Linked DNA regions of Homo sapiens: all the other regions are reported to be linked to region 1. The links are microRNA targets in miRTarBase. Many come from high-throughput screens and were not tested one by one. Region 1 holds a microRNA gene; each other region holds the end of a gene's coding sequence.
What was found. Region 1 holds the annotated microRNA hsa-miR-324-5p (CGCAUCCCCUAGGGCAUUGGUG, at 749-770, shown strand). A microRNA usually pairs through its seed, bases 2 to 8, with sites in the 3' UTR of a target mRNA and lowers its output. Matches are read on the target gene's strand: a 7mer-m8 pairs with bases 2 to 8, a 7mer-A1 pairs with bases 2 to 7 and ends in A, and an 8mer does both.

Region 1 (3,000 bases):
ACTGTCCTCCCCACCTCTACCCCCACCCAATTCTCTGTCTTACCATACAGCCCTGCAGAGCCACAAACAGCCGAAGAATGTCATTTGTCCCCTCAAAGATCCGGAAGATGCGAAGATCTCGGAGCACACGCTCTACTCCAGGTTCCTAGCACAGGGCCACACAAATTATATGCCCGTGCTGAGATGTGCCTACCCACCCCTGGCCCAGCCGAGGCTCTGCAGAAGACCGTCCTGTACCTTCATGAAGCCCATACCCCCCATGATTTGGATGCATTCATCTGTCACCTTCCAGGCTGCCTCCTAGGGACAAAGAACAGATGAGACTGGTTTTGGGAGCTGAGCACCCAAACTGGACTCCCTCCCAGCATGCCTGGGACCTCACCGAGCCAAAGATTTTGCTGATGGCGGCCTCTATCTGGAAGTCCGTGGCTCCCTGGTCCATGTTAGCACTCACCATGTAAGCCATGGACTGAGGTTGCATAGTTGGGACATGGGAAGGAAAATTGCAAAGGGCTTTGTCAGACTTGGCCTCATCACCCAGATCTCCAAGATAAGGGCTGACCTAGCTTGTCAGGTCAGGCAGATACTTGTTCTGGGTCAGTTCATCAGGTGCTTCCAGGTATTTGTTTTCTTAAAAGGGGTGGATGTAAGGGATGAGGTAGAATTAACTTCTGGTACTGCTGGCAGGCACCTGAGCAGAACATCATTGCTGTCTCTCTTCGCAGAAGCTGAGCTGACTATGCCTCCCCGCATCCCCTAGGGCATTGGTGTAAAGCTGGAGACCCACTGCCCCAGGTGCTGCTGGGGGTTGTAGTCTGACCCGACTGGGAAGAAAGCCCCAGGGCTCCAGGGAGAGGGGCTTGGGAGGCCCTCACCTCAGTTACATACTGCAGCATAACCATCCGTGCCAGCTTCTCCTGGATCAGCCCAAAGTTGTGAATTTTCTCCCCAAACTGGGTACGATTAGTGGCATGATCTACCTGGAAGAGGGTCCACACATCCCGCTGTGGTTCAGTGTGGTTCTGCAGTCTCCCTAGGAGAGGGGCTGGGCTTGCGCCAGAGGGATGGGTTTTGCATACAACCAGAGTTCAGTCTACGCTGGATGGAGACCTAAGCTAGCAAGTCGGGCTGCTGGTAGGGGAGGAGTTTCTAGTGTAGGGAGTGCCTGCAAGTGATCAGGGACACATGGCAAGGGGGACAGTGAGACTTCTGTTTGGGTTACCTAGGGACTCGGGCAGGGTACTCACCGCCTTAGCAATGATGCCTCTCATGGTACCTGCCAGGGCCGCAGCCATGCCAAACCTTCCATTGTTGAGGATGTGCATGGCAACCTTGAAGCCACTCCCAACCTCACCCAGCACGTTCTCCGATGGCACCCGTACTCCATCAAAGAACACCTCTGCTGTGTTTGAAGCCTTGATGCCCATCTTCTTCTCAGGGGGCCCACTGTGTCAGGGCAGTGTGGGAAAGCAGAGGTGTGTTCAACAGGTTGTCACTGGGGGAAAAACTGCTCCTTCGCTCCTTATGCACCAGGGAGGAATGACGACCACTAGACTATTAGAGGCTACAGCCACCACTTCCCCTCAGGCCCTGAGGGCTAAGGAGGCCTGGCTATGTCCTATTTTGTGTTGGACTTGGTTGCTGGAGCCAAAACTTTAGCTCAGTTGCATACATATTAGTCCCAAAGGCCACATTCAGTCCACCTGCTTTGGCTTTTGCACACGTCCCCAGGGTGACTTGCAACAGCCATCTGCCCAGGAGCCCAGTCCTGCCCCTCAGTCCTAAGCTCCCCCAACCCAAATTCACTCACTGGGTAATGCCCCCGAAGCCCCTCTCCACCACAAAAGCTGTGATCTTCTCCTTCACGGCTCCTGTGGCTGGATCTGTAACTGGTGTCTTGGCAAAGACCGTGAAGATGTCTGCTAGGCCCCCATTACTGTGGAAGAATGGGATATTCAGGGCGTGGAGGACGGGGAGCAGTGGGGCCTGGAATTGGGCGGAGGAGAAGGGGAGAAATGGGAGGCAGGTTGCCTGATCCAAAGCTTGCTTCCATTGAGGGTATAGTATTTTCCACAGGGGCTGGGCACAGCAGAGGTTCGGATGGAGGCTGCATCTGACCCGCTTGAGGGCTCGGTTAGACAGAAAGCGGCCACAGTCTCCCCTGTTGGGGAGAGAGCTACTTTACCCCAAGTTCTGATGAGCTTCAAAGTCCCCTCGGCCCACTTCCCCATCCCTCCAGCAGGCAGTTCCCCCTTAACACCTGGGAGTATCCAGTTCTTTTGCATGTCCCAACCAGCACACTGTGATGCCTCCCCAAAACCTTCCCCCAACTGAAATGCTCAGCCATCTGATAATCTAAGTGCCAACTGGCCTAATCTGTGCCAAGCCCAGTGTGCCCCCCAATCCCTGGCTCTCCTAGGGTTGCCTCACCAGATGCCAGCTTGGGGAGGTATTTTTCTTTCTGGGCCTTTGTGCCAAAGAGCAGGATGCCTTTGAAACCGATGCTCTGATGGGCCCCCAGGGTAATGCCCACGCCAAGGTCATGCATGCCCACGATCTCCACCAAACGGGCGTACTGGAGGGGAAGCAGGAATCTGGGGTTGTCACTGGCTGCAGGGGGACCTGACCTTAACAGGAGAGTGTGGGCAACAGGGCAGTTCCTGACCTAGGGCAGTTCCTGACCTAGGGCAGTGCCTGACCTGGGCCATCCCCAGTGTGTAGAAAAGAAGTGGGGTGTGCAAAGGGCACAGCAGAGAATGCTGGTCTGTCTTAGGTCTAGGTAGGAGGGTGACTTGCTACTAGTCAGTCTATTGTTAGGCAATCCCCAACTTAGAGATTTGTAAGGACTTGGGAACCAGGGTGAGGCCCATGGCTCAGGCCTAGGGGACTGCATGTAAATTGTGTTATGTTTGGACAGTTAACATCCATCCCACAGGCACCCAGGGCAGGTGCTTAGAAGAGACCTTAGCCCTAGTCTCTAGGTCTATGGCAAAAGAGCTG
Region 2 (3,092 bases), not on the chromosome of region 1:
GTTAACATGCACTGAGATCCTACGATGTGCCAGTCCGTATTCTAAGTACCTTGCATAGATCATCTCATTTAATCCTCACAACCCACCTATGAGGTAAATGCTATAATTATCCCCACTCTACTGAGGAGGAATTAAAGTACAGACAGGTTAATGTGCTCCGAGTCACACAGCTATTGGAAGAGATAGGATTTAAACCCAAACATTTTGTCCCTTAAACTTACCTTCCCAACACATGGCCCTGTTTCTCAATGCATGTGCACTGTCTCTGTTTAAAGTAAGGGAAATCATTTCCTAAGGAGTGATGCAAGTCAAGCTGTTTGCTGGGAGTTCTCTAATATCCTTGTTGTTTATATCTCCTAGGTGTTTTTCCAGGTCTGACCATCTTGCCCTCCACATGAAGAGACATATCTAAAAAACCGAAAGGCCAGAGTTGCCATGGCATCGGCTAGTGTCTAAAGGAAACGCCATGAGGCAGGGGGCTGGACTTCAGGCGGGGACCCATTGCCTCGCAGAAGAAAGTTCTCACTTATAAACCTCTGTACACACACACACACACACACACATATACACACACTCACAGACCCACACACATACACACTGTCATGCACTCAACTATATTTAAAATATATACGTCTATTCTTTATGCCTTGCCCTAGCCAGATGGAAGAAGATGAAGAAGGAAACCAGGTGAACTCAGCAAGGCAGACTGGCTGCTTACTTCAGCACTATTGGAATTATTTCCCGCTGTTGCCAATGGAAATCAAAGAAAATGGATGTGACGTCTGTGCAGGTGGACGGCAGTCCGAGGGGCTTATTTCACTTGCTTCTCAGTGCAACTTGATAGGAGAATCCAGCATCTTAAAGTTGCATATGTGTAGCACTAATGTTTCTTTTTAAATAGTTGGGGGAAAATGACCTAGAAAACCAAATTGCAGTTTGGTAGCCAAAATTAACTCTTGGTTTATTTGTCCTTTGTGTGTGAAAAGTCCTACTATTCCGTGCGTCAGACTTCCTCACAGAACTGTTGACTGGTTTTGGTTCTTAGTACTATTGAGATCTTTCGCGTCGATCCCAACGGCCTTAGCGGCGGCAGACTGGAATAACACCTTACACCTTTCTGGCCTGCATTTCTGTAGACTTCACTCTCAAGGGAGGAGTTTTCTTTTCTTACGTTTTGACTTTTGCACACCATATGCACTAGGGATTCTGGAAACTTCTAGCATGACTGCAAAGTGGCCAAGAGAATAAAGTCCTTGATGATAAATCACAGTATATCCCTTGAGCCTCACCTTATTGCCAGTGCTAGATTTTTTCTTTTTAATCTCTCCGTTTTTGCTAACGAAAACTTGAAAAGCTTATTTGGAAGCTTAAATGTTTTATCTTTTCTCCATGGACTAAACCTCTCCAGGACTCTCTCGGCACCTGGATGTCCAGCTCTCGAAGCAGCCAGTCAGATGGGACATCACAGTTCTCTCATCCTCCTTGAGGCATGATGACCTCAGCTCATAGTGATCAACCGTTGTGCTGTGTGTCATTGCTACCCCATAACCAGTTACAGCATAGATGTCGCTAGTCTCAGAGGGCAGCTGCGTATTTAATTTAACTCTGGTTTATGACCTGACAAAAAGCCAAAAATATCACTCTTTCCAGGAGTGGGGAAAACTGAGGATGCCTCCCAAGTCTAGTGGCTTCACAAAAGATCATCCTGTCTTCTCTGTCATGCCCACTGAGCTCCTATTCCCCTACGTGTTACAATACACAATTTAAAACGCCATTGTGGGAGTGAAGGGTTGACATTTAAGGAAAAGGTTGAGGTGTTTCTCTCATGGGCTGTCTAAAAGGAGAGACACGTTTCTTTCTTTCCTTTTTTTTTTGGCTAGGCCCACCATGACTTGTGACCTAGAACCCCCAGGATTAACAGAGGCCTCACATTTACTCTGCAAGCTGACTCCAAAGGAGTCTACAGTCCTTACTTGTCATGCCACACTCACACATCCAGTAGTGGTCTCTATCTACCCGCATTCCTAGCTAGCTGGCACTGGCCTCAACTCCAAAGACTGCCTTTAGGACCATCAAATGGCCTATGCAAGCAAGCGGGGTGGTTATTAGGACAGATTGTATATTTTGTATATTCTGGGACCATCCCTTCAAGACACGTCTATAAAACAAAAATGGCGCTTGGTCCACACACGGTTGCTGCTCCCTCCTACCAGCTGGCTCCCCTCCTGTCCTCCTTTGACTGTTTGACTCATTGACTGTTAAAATGCCACCCCATACATATTTGGGATGCAAAACTGAAGTCAAAAGGAAATAATATAAGAAACACAAACACATATATGACAGCAACCTTCAAGATCTGGGTTTTCAGCTTTCTGCAACCTTTGTTTTCACTGAAATGTTGAAACTACTCGTCTGAGGGCAAAGGAACCTCCTCACAAATGCTATAGCTGCCAATTGGACACTTGGGGCATTTCGAGGTCTGGCCCTAAGAATTTACTTTCTCCTTTTCCTTTTTTCTATTTAGACCAAAAAAAACAAAAACAAAAACAAAAAAAAAAACAAAATAATACAAAACGAAAAAAAAAGAAAGAACACCCGTTAACACACACGCGCACACACACACAAAATCTGTCCATTTGCCGGAGGCAATTGTATGTATGTTAGTTGGAGGGTATTAAAAATCAGTTTTATTCCAAAGATTTAAAACTAGACATGACTTAAAAACAATTTCTGGAGCACTGCTTGCTGACAATCTCGTAGTTCTCTGCTGCATTTGAGTGCATTTTGTGGCCAGTCCATCAGGGCGTACCATGGGATTATATTTGAATGTGTGGTGCATCCTTCCTGGATGAAGGATGTGTGAGGGACCTTGAACCTCAGCTGTATTAAACTGTAGCGCCTCCAGTCAGTGCACTAGATGAAACTTTTAGACACCCTGAATTCTGTTGGTTCCTTTCTTTTCCTTTATGTAGCAGCCTCCAGCATGAATGCACGCACACGCCAGTGATGGCATTAAGCCATGGCCACCACGATTTGCAAATGTTCTCTCCCAAGCTGGAGCTGCTCTTGCCTCTCGAATGCTATTATTAAGG
Region 3 (3,092 bases), not on the chromosome of region 1:
GGGAATGTCCTTCTGGAAGGACATCGGACACTAAGAAAAATCAATGCCTGGCCAGGCGCCGTGGCTCACACCTGTAATGCCAGCACTTTGGGAGGCCGAGGCAGGAGGATCACCTGAGGTCAGGAGTTTGAGACCAGCCTAGCCAACATGGTAAAACCCTGTCTCTAATAAAAATTCAAAAAATTAGCTGGGCATGGTGGCATGCACCTGTAGTCCCAGCTACTCAGGAGACAGAGGCCGGAGAACAGCTTGGGCCCGGGAGGCGGAGGCCGGAGAACAGCTTGGGCCCGGGAGGCGGAGGCCGGAGAACAGCTTGGGCCCAGAGACGTTCAACACGTCTGTGTGATACCACAGGTAGTTCTCCCAACCAATCAGGACATGTTACTTCGCCTCACACCAGATTACATTCAACCCCATTGGATGGCAAAGGCTGTCTTTCCTAAGCCTGCAAATGACTTGTATGTCAACAGACCAATTTCTCTTACTTTGTCCGCAATTCACCACACACACACCAGGCTAAAGGATGTATATTTAATGAGACAGTGACAGCAGCATTGTTACAACTGGGCATCCCTCAGGCCAGCCTGGTCCCATGCTGTGGGACCACCCATGTGTGGTCTTCCACAAGGTGCTGGCGGCACCGGGCTCTTCCTGCTGTGCCACAGACCCACAGAAAGAACCATACGTGATTCCGTTTACCGGCTGTGTCACCCAGAAGGGGCAGGTGGGGGAGATGCTGGGTGGCAGGTAAAAATAAAAGGGGCCCAACCCTTTGTCCAGCAAATACCAGCACAGTTTTTCTATGGACACAGTGATTTGTAACTTGAATAATGTGAAGTTGATTACACAGATTTCGGAATGGCTAATATCCATATGACAGAAATGTGATGCATTCATGAGACGTGTGCAGACTTTGGGGTGTTGGGAAACAGCATTTGGCCTTTAACCTCCTCCTCAGCCCCAAAGAGGAAGGGGAAACAGGACAGGAACCCACACTGTTGATCCAACCTCACATCACATTCTCTGAAGGACTCCGACATGTTCCCTGCTCACCGTTCCACCTGAGGTAGGTCAGGACCCCTGCCCCCATTTTCCAGATGGGGAAACCGAGGCAGAGCAGACAATAAGAACCTTGCCTAAAGCCACCACAGTGGGGAGTGGACACCATCCCCTTCCTGATGCCGGAGGACAAAGAGGAGACCCTGCCGTCTCTCCCACTCCTGGAATGAGCCAGTGAGCCAGGTGGCCTTTCTGCTGACTGAGGTGTCTCCTCTTGGGTTTCCTGGTCAAAGGGGACCAATAACCAAGCAGTGGCATTCTCTGCCCTCTGCCCACCGTGTGCCAACCATGTGCACCAACAGCCAAGCACAGTCCAGGGTGTGGGGGAAAAGGACAGACAGGAGCACCCCCACTGCCCAAGGCAGAAGGCTGGGAAGCCACGTCCTGACACGTCCTCTCCTGAGGCCCCTCGTGGACCGCAGGATCTGTAAAGTGCAAACACCAAAGCCAAGTGTCCCCTCACCCAGAGCTGTAGGTTTCCTCTGCTGCCCAGGGGCCTCTGTCCCGTGGAGTGAGGGACCTCCCACACGCCTGCCCTGATCTTCCTGAATGTGCTCAGTCGAGCGAATACTCTCAGCTCTCTTGACCTCAGGCCCCCAAACAAAAGGCCATTGGCTGGTCATTTCTGAGCTATCTGGAGCCCTCCACAGGGAGCAGGACAGAGCTCCTCAGGTAAATCTGGTTCCAAGAAATGCCACCAGACCACTGCAGGATCCCATCGCCTAACTGGAACCTCCCCCAGCACACAGCCCCTGCTGCACACCTGGAGGCCAGGACACCCTCCTCAGGCTGGGGCCACAGCCTCCTAGCTTGGAGCACCAGGAAAGGTGGGCTGGGCCAAAGCAGGAGCACCCAGCAGGGAAAAGCTCCATGGCCCCTTCCCTGCTGTTGTATAGAAACAACAGGTGACCCCACTGTACTGACCATCCGATGAGGCCTTTGAACCTCAGGCCAGGGAGAGGCAGGTCTGCAGGTGACAACTGTGAACAGTCCCAGCTGGGGACAACCAGAAATCCCCAAGGCCACGAGTGGCTGAAAGGGATGGAGCCCCCAGGCAGAGCCGACACCCCACCGCAGGTGAGACTCGGCCCTTGGCTGAGTGTGTGCAGCCGCATCCTCAGGTGTCACTCAACACTCCTCTGAAGCTCTGTCCGGGTCTTGGCCTGATGAGCTTCCAGGGTGGCCAGGACGGGAGCTGTGGAATTTCTAGGGCCCGGATGCCCTGGTCCAGGGGTGTGGAGGGCTCTGTGCCATGGGGGAGGTGAGATGTCCCCCCAGCTCCCTGCCCATGGAGTTCTGCATTGGGGGAAGGATGGGGGCCACGCAAGGACCCCTCACAGCAGCACACCCAGGTGACAGCCAGGTGCAGCCGCCCCGAGTCCCAGCAAGCACCTGGGAGACAGCGGGCCTTGACACTGCCCACCCGCTCTGGCCCAGCAGGGGTGGAGGGGGCCAGGGCCGCACCCCAGGGGTCTCCGGAGCAGAAGGAACAACTTGATGTTGGCAGGGTGGGTCCTGGCGGGCCAGGCGGGGTGCCCAGCACTGTTCCTCGGCGCTAGGCCTCCACATCGGGACCTGGCTCCTGGAAGAGCGACTGCTTCCTCAGGCTGAGCCGGGCACACTTGGGACAAGTGGTGGAGTTGTCGTAGTAGCAGTCCCTGGGGGCAGAAAGAGGTCGGGGCTCTCTGCACAGGAAACTCCAGCACTGAATCCCCCCAAGCGTCCTAGGTCAGCTCCTATCATCCCCTCTACAGCCGTTACCAAAGGGCAGAGTCGGAGTCTGCAGCCAGATGCAAGTGACTGTATGGCCGTGTGCAGAGCGCTTACGGGCGTGCAGATGTGGACCTCCAGGGGTCCTCACGCTACCTGCTATCCCCCAACCACACAGGTCCCAGTTCACACAGCTGAGGGGCTGAGCCAGGTGGCCACGCCAGACTCGACTCAGAGCCCTTCCTCACGATTCCCACCTGTTCCTATCCCTCCCCTGGCTCCCAAACTGTACATCACGGCACCCTGGGGCACCGCAGCCTAGT
Region 4 (3,092 bases), not on the chromosome of region 1:
CCTCTCACCCACCACTGCCCCTGCAGAGAGGACACCACCTCTGTGATTTCCCAGGTTTACAGGCTTTCCAGGAGGGAAACCCCAGCCACACTCTGCTCAAAATGCCAGTGGTTTTGGGAGCCATCTCACCTGACTGTGTACACCAAGTAACATGGACAATTAGGTGAGGGGACTGGTAGACATGGCGGGGAGGCAAACGTGGAGGACAGAAGATGTGGGCTTGGATCCCAGTTCTCCTACTTATTAGCTGTGAAAACTGAGACAATTATTGAACCTCAGAGCCTGGGTTTCTTCTTTTATGAGAGAATAATTCCTTCCCTCTAGAGTTTTTGTGGGAATTAAATAAGATAATTATTGTGAACCTGCTGAGTCCAGTTTCTGACCTCAACAAGACAGTCAATAAATGGCTGAGATTATTCCCCACCACCTCACTCCCAGGGGTCAGAGTTTTCTGTCCAGTTGTTCCATTACCCATACTGTCTCTTAGTATGTACTGATGAGCTCTTGTTTGCAAAAGCTTTATCCTCTTGGAGCAATTTCTTCAGAGCCATGCTGGTGTCAGCCAGCTGGTCAGTCTAGCAGCCTTGAGGCTTTACTGGCCCATTGCTCTGGTCAGATCACATGCAAATAAAGGGCTCCCTTCCCTCATCTTGTTCAAGACCACTTAGCTTACTAGGAAATAACAAGATAATCAAAATCACTCACTCCTTCCTTGTACCAAATATTTTCATGGGCTTATATTTAATCCATATTCACTGCCATGTGCAATGAGACTGAGTACATTCAAGTCGGCTCTAGCACTCTAGACTTCTGGCCCCTGTCTTCCCTTTTGGTCCAACTCTTGGTCCTGGACCAAACTTATCCCCGCTAACCTGAAGATTAGGAAGAGGAAGAACTAGATAGAAATGATGGCTCAAGTGCATCAATGTGTCCAGTGATTCTCAAACTTTGCTGCCCATTAGAATCACTTGTGGAGTTTTAAAGATTCCTGGTGTTCAAGCCACACCATGGACCAATTAAATTGGAATATCTGGGCATGAGGACCAGGCAGAGTATTAAGTCTGAGAACCAGTGACTTAATTGCTGTTGCTAGTTTGCCTGTATCAGTGTTGTCTACCATGGACTGTAAGTTCTGGAACAAGAAGAACCACATGTATCCCACTTTATAGCATTCCATGTGGAGTCAGACACACAGCCAATGCTTCCGATGATGATGGAATACCTCAATCTGTTTGTAATTAACTCTGAAATTGGAATATGGTGTATTCCAGGATCACACATATGTCCTGAAGTCATAGATGATAAACATTTTATTACACTAAAAAAGTCATCTGTTAACTGCTGAACTGCAGGGGGACCACATGTGAGGCTACTTCAGAAAAATGGCATCAGATAACATATATAGATTTCTGGCATTATAAAATGGCTAGATTCTCCCCTACCTTCCCTCATTAAATATTAATCAGTGGCTTAGGTCAGTTCTAGTGGGAACACTTAATTGCTGACTTCACATAAAACCAGGATTAGCCTAATGTGCCAATGGTATGAGTCCATTCCTGGCCATCTTCCCAACAGCCAGACCGCTGTGGCTTGGACACCGGAGGCAACATCTGGGGGGCCTCAGTTCCACTCCTCTGTGGTGAGCTTGCTCTTCCTAATAACTGGCTCTGGAGTCACATCAACAATGGTGGCATTGCCATCTGGGGCCCACATGAGCCCTCTGGGGCGTGCTGCATCCCTACTGGGCTGCGGTGGGGCTCTGAGGTTGGGACCAGCAGCCTGAGCCTGGTTCCACTTCACTACACAGCAAATTGTATACCCAAGGGAGTGGTTATGACTTGCTGCTCCTCATTCATGTGAGGAAGTGGTGCCTTGCCTGGGATCCTGTGTGTCAGAACCACAGCAGGCCTGGGAGGCACATCCAGCTGGGGTTGGGGAGGACAGGCCTGCATGACAGAGCTGGGGAGTGGTGGGGACACAGGCAGAGGAACCAGCACTGCCTGCCTTTTGATTCAAAGCAACTTCAGAAGATCCCTGTGTCCATTTCCACATATTGGTTATTTGAACATTTCCTAAATGACTTCCTCATCCAGCCTGAAGGCAAAGAGACCATTCACTACCATCTGGAGGCTCAGTTAGCAGTTCCAAGTGGCTGGCACATTGCACCTGAGTCCTGCAGTTCCTCAGGCTGGCCTCAAATTCCCGAGAAGTGCCTAAGGCAGAGCCATTTCCCAGATCCGCAGGCTTCCTGGCTGCTCGAGGGGCACTGCTCCTTCCTGCTCCCACCAGCAGTGTCTCTGATGGCTTCCCATGGGATCAGATGGCCTCCTCTACCTGCAGTGTGGGTGGGGGGTGAGGGGCAGGATGTCCAACCCCCTCCTCAGTAGCTCATATTTCTCCTTTGCCCAGCTCACCTTCACCCCAGCACCAGGCCACACTACAGAGGCACACTGTTGACTGCAGTCTGCCACAGGACCGAGGTCAACAGTCAAGACATTTGTCTTTTCCCTTCCCCTGGGCCAGCAGACATCGCCCCCTCATCCCAGGCCTGGAAGGAGGTTCCTCAGAGGCCCTCGTGGTAGCTGCAGCCTCCTGGCTGTCAATCTTGCACCAGGAAGTTGATGAGGGCAGTTCTCGGGGAAAGGAAGGACTTCTTGATGCTTCGTCCTTGCAAAAGCCTGACACCCAGCTCGCTTTGAAGAACAAATTCGTGGACTTTGTCCTGGTCCCGGGCAACTTGTTGGGGCACAGGAATTTTGCCACAAGCTTTATTGTTGATCTGAGAAGGAGAAAAGCCAAGATAAACAATGAGGAACATCCTCAGAGTGGCAGGCGGCCCAATACCAAACCTCCTGCCTGTAAAGGGCATGGCTGCATTTGTTTAGGGGAAAGGAATAGAGGTGGAGAAAGGAGGAAGTCAGCACTCTGCTTCCCATAAGGGTAAAATGCAACCAGCTGAATAGGATTAATGCCTAGACCTGCAGAAAGAGACCGACACTGAGACTGCATGTGAGTGCCCGTACGTGGAGTGAGGACCGCCTTGCATTTTCTGAGCACTGCTCCCATACACAGCTGTGGTAGAGATTATGTCA

Region 2: the mRNA of KLF7 is a reported target of hsa-miR-324-5p. Seed matches in the 3' UTR shown: 8mer at 2,284-2,291.
Region 3: miRTarBase lists DEF8 as a target of hsa-miR-324-5p. Seed matches in the 3' UTR shown: 7mer-m8 at 568-574.
Region 4: miRTarBase lists LARS2 as a target of hsa-miR-324-5p. Seed matches in the 3' UTR shown: 8mer at 1,732-1,739.

What each region holds. Positions count from the first base shown.
Region 1 is chr17:7,221,113-7,224,112 of GRCh38, reverse strand. It overlaps MIR324 (microRNA 324), which reads left to right and starts at 734; the gene lies at 734-816. It overlaps ACADVL (acyl-CoA dehydrogenase very long chain), which reads right to left. Exons shown (of 20, transcript NM_000018.4): 7 at 2,431-2,575; 8 at 2,032-2,161; 9 at 1,811-1,936; 10 at 1,248-1,446; 11 at 876-980; 12 at 383-469; 13 at 238-300; 14 at 44-145.
Region 2 is chr2:207,078,533-207,081,624 of GRCh38, reverse strand. It overlaps KLF7 (KLF transcription factor 7), which reads left to right. Exons shown (of 4, transcript NM_003709.4): 4 at 361-3,092. The coding sequence ends at 412. Among named protein-coding and RNA genes, the nearest start is that of MIR2355, 30 kb to the left of the region's middle.
Region 3 is chr16:89,965,486-89,968,577 of GRCh38, reverse strand. DEF8 (differentially expressed in FDCP 8 homolog) reads right to left here. Exons shown (of 13, transcript NM_001242818.2): 13 at 518-2,717. The coding sequence ends at 2,615. Among named protein-coding and RNA genes, the nearest start is that of SNORA119, 14 kb to the right of the region's middle.
Region 4 is chr3:45,547,038-45,550,129 of GRCh38, reverse strand. It overlaps LARS2 (leucyl-tRNA synthetase 2, mitochondrial), which reads right to left. Exons shown (of 22, transcript NM_015340.4): 22 at 723-2,779. The coding sequence ends at 2,600. Among named protein-coding and RNA genes, the nearest start is that of LARS2-AS1, 39 kb to the right of the region's middle.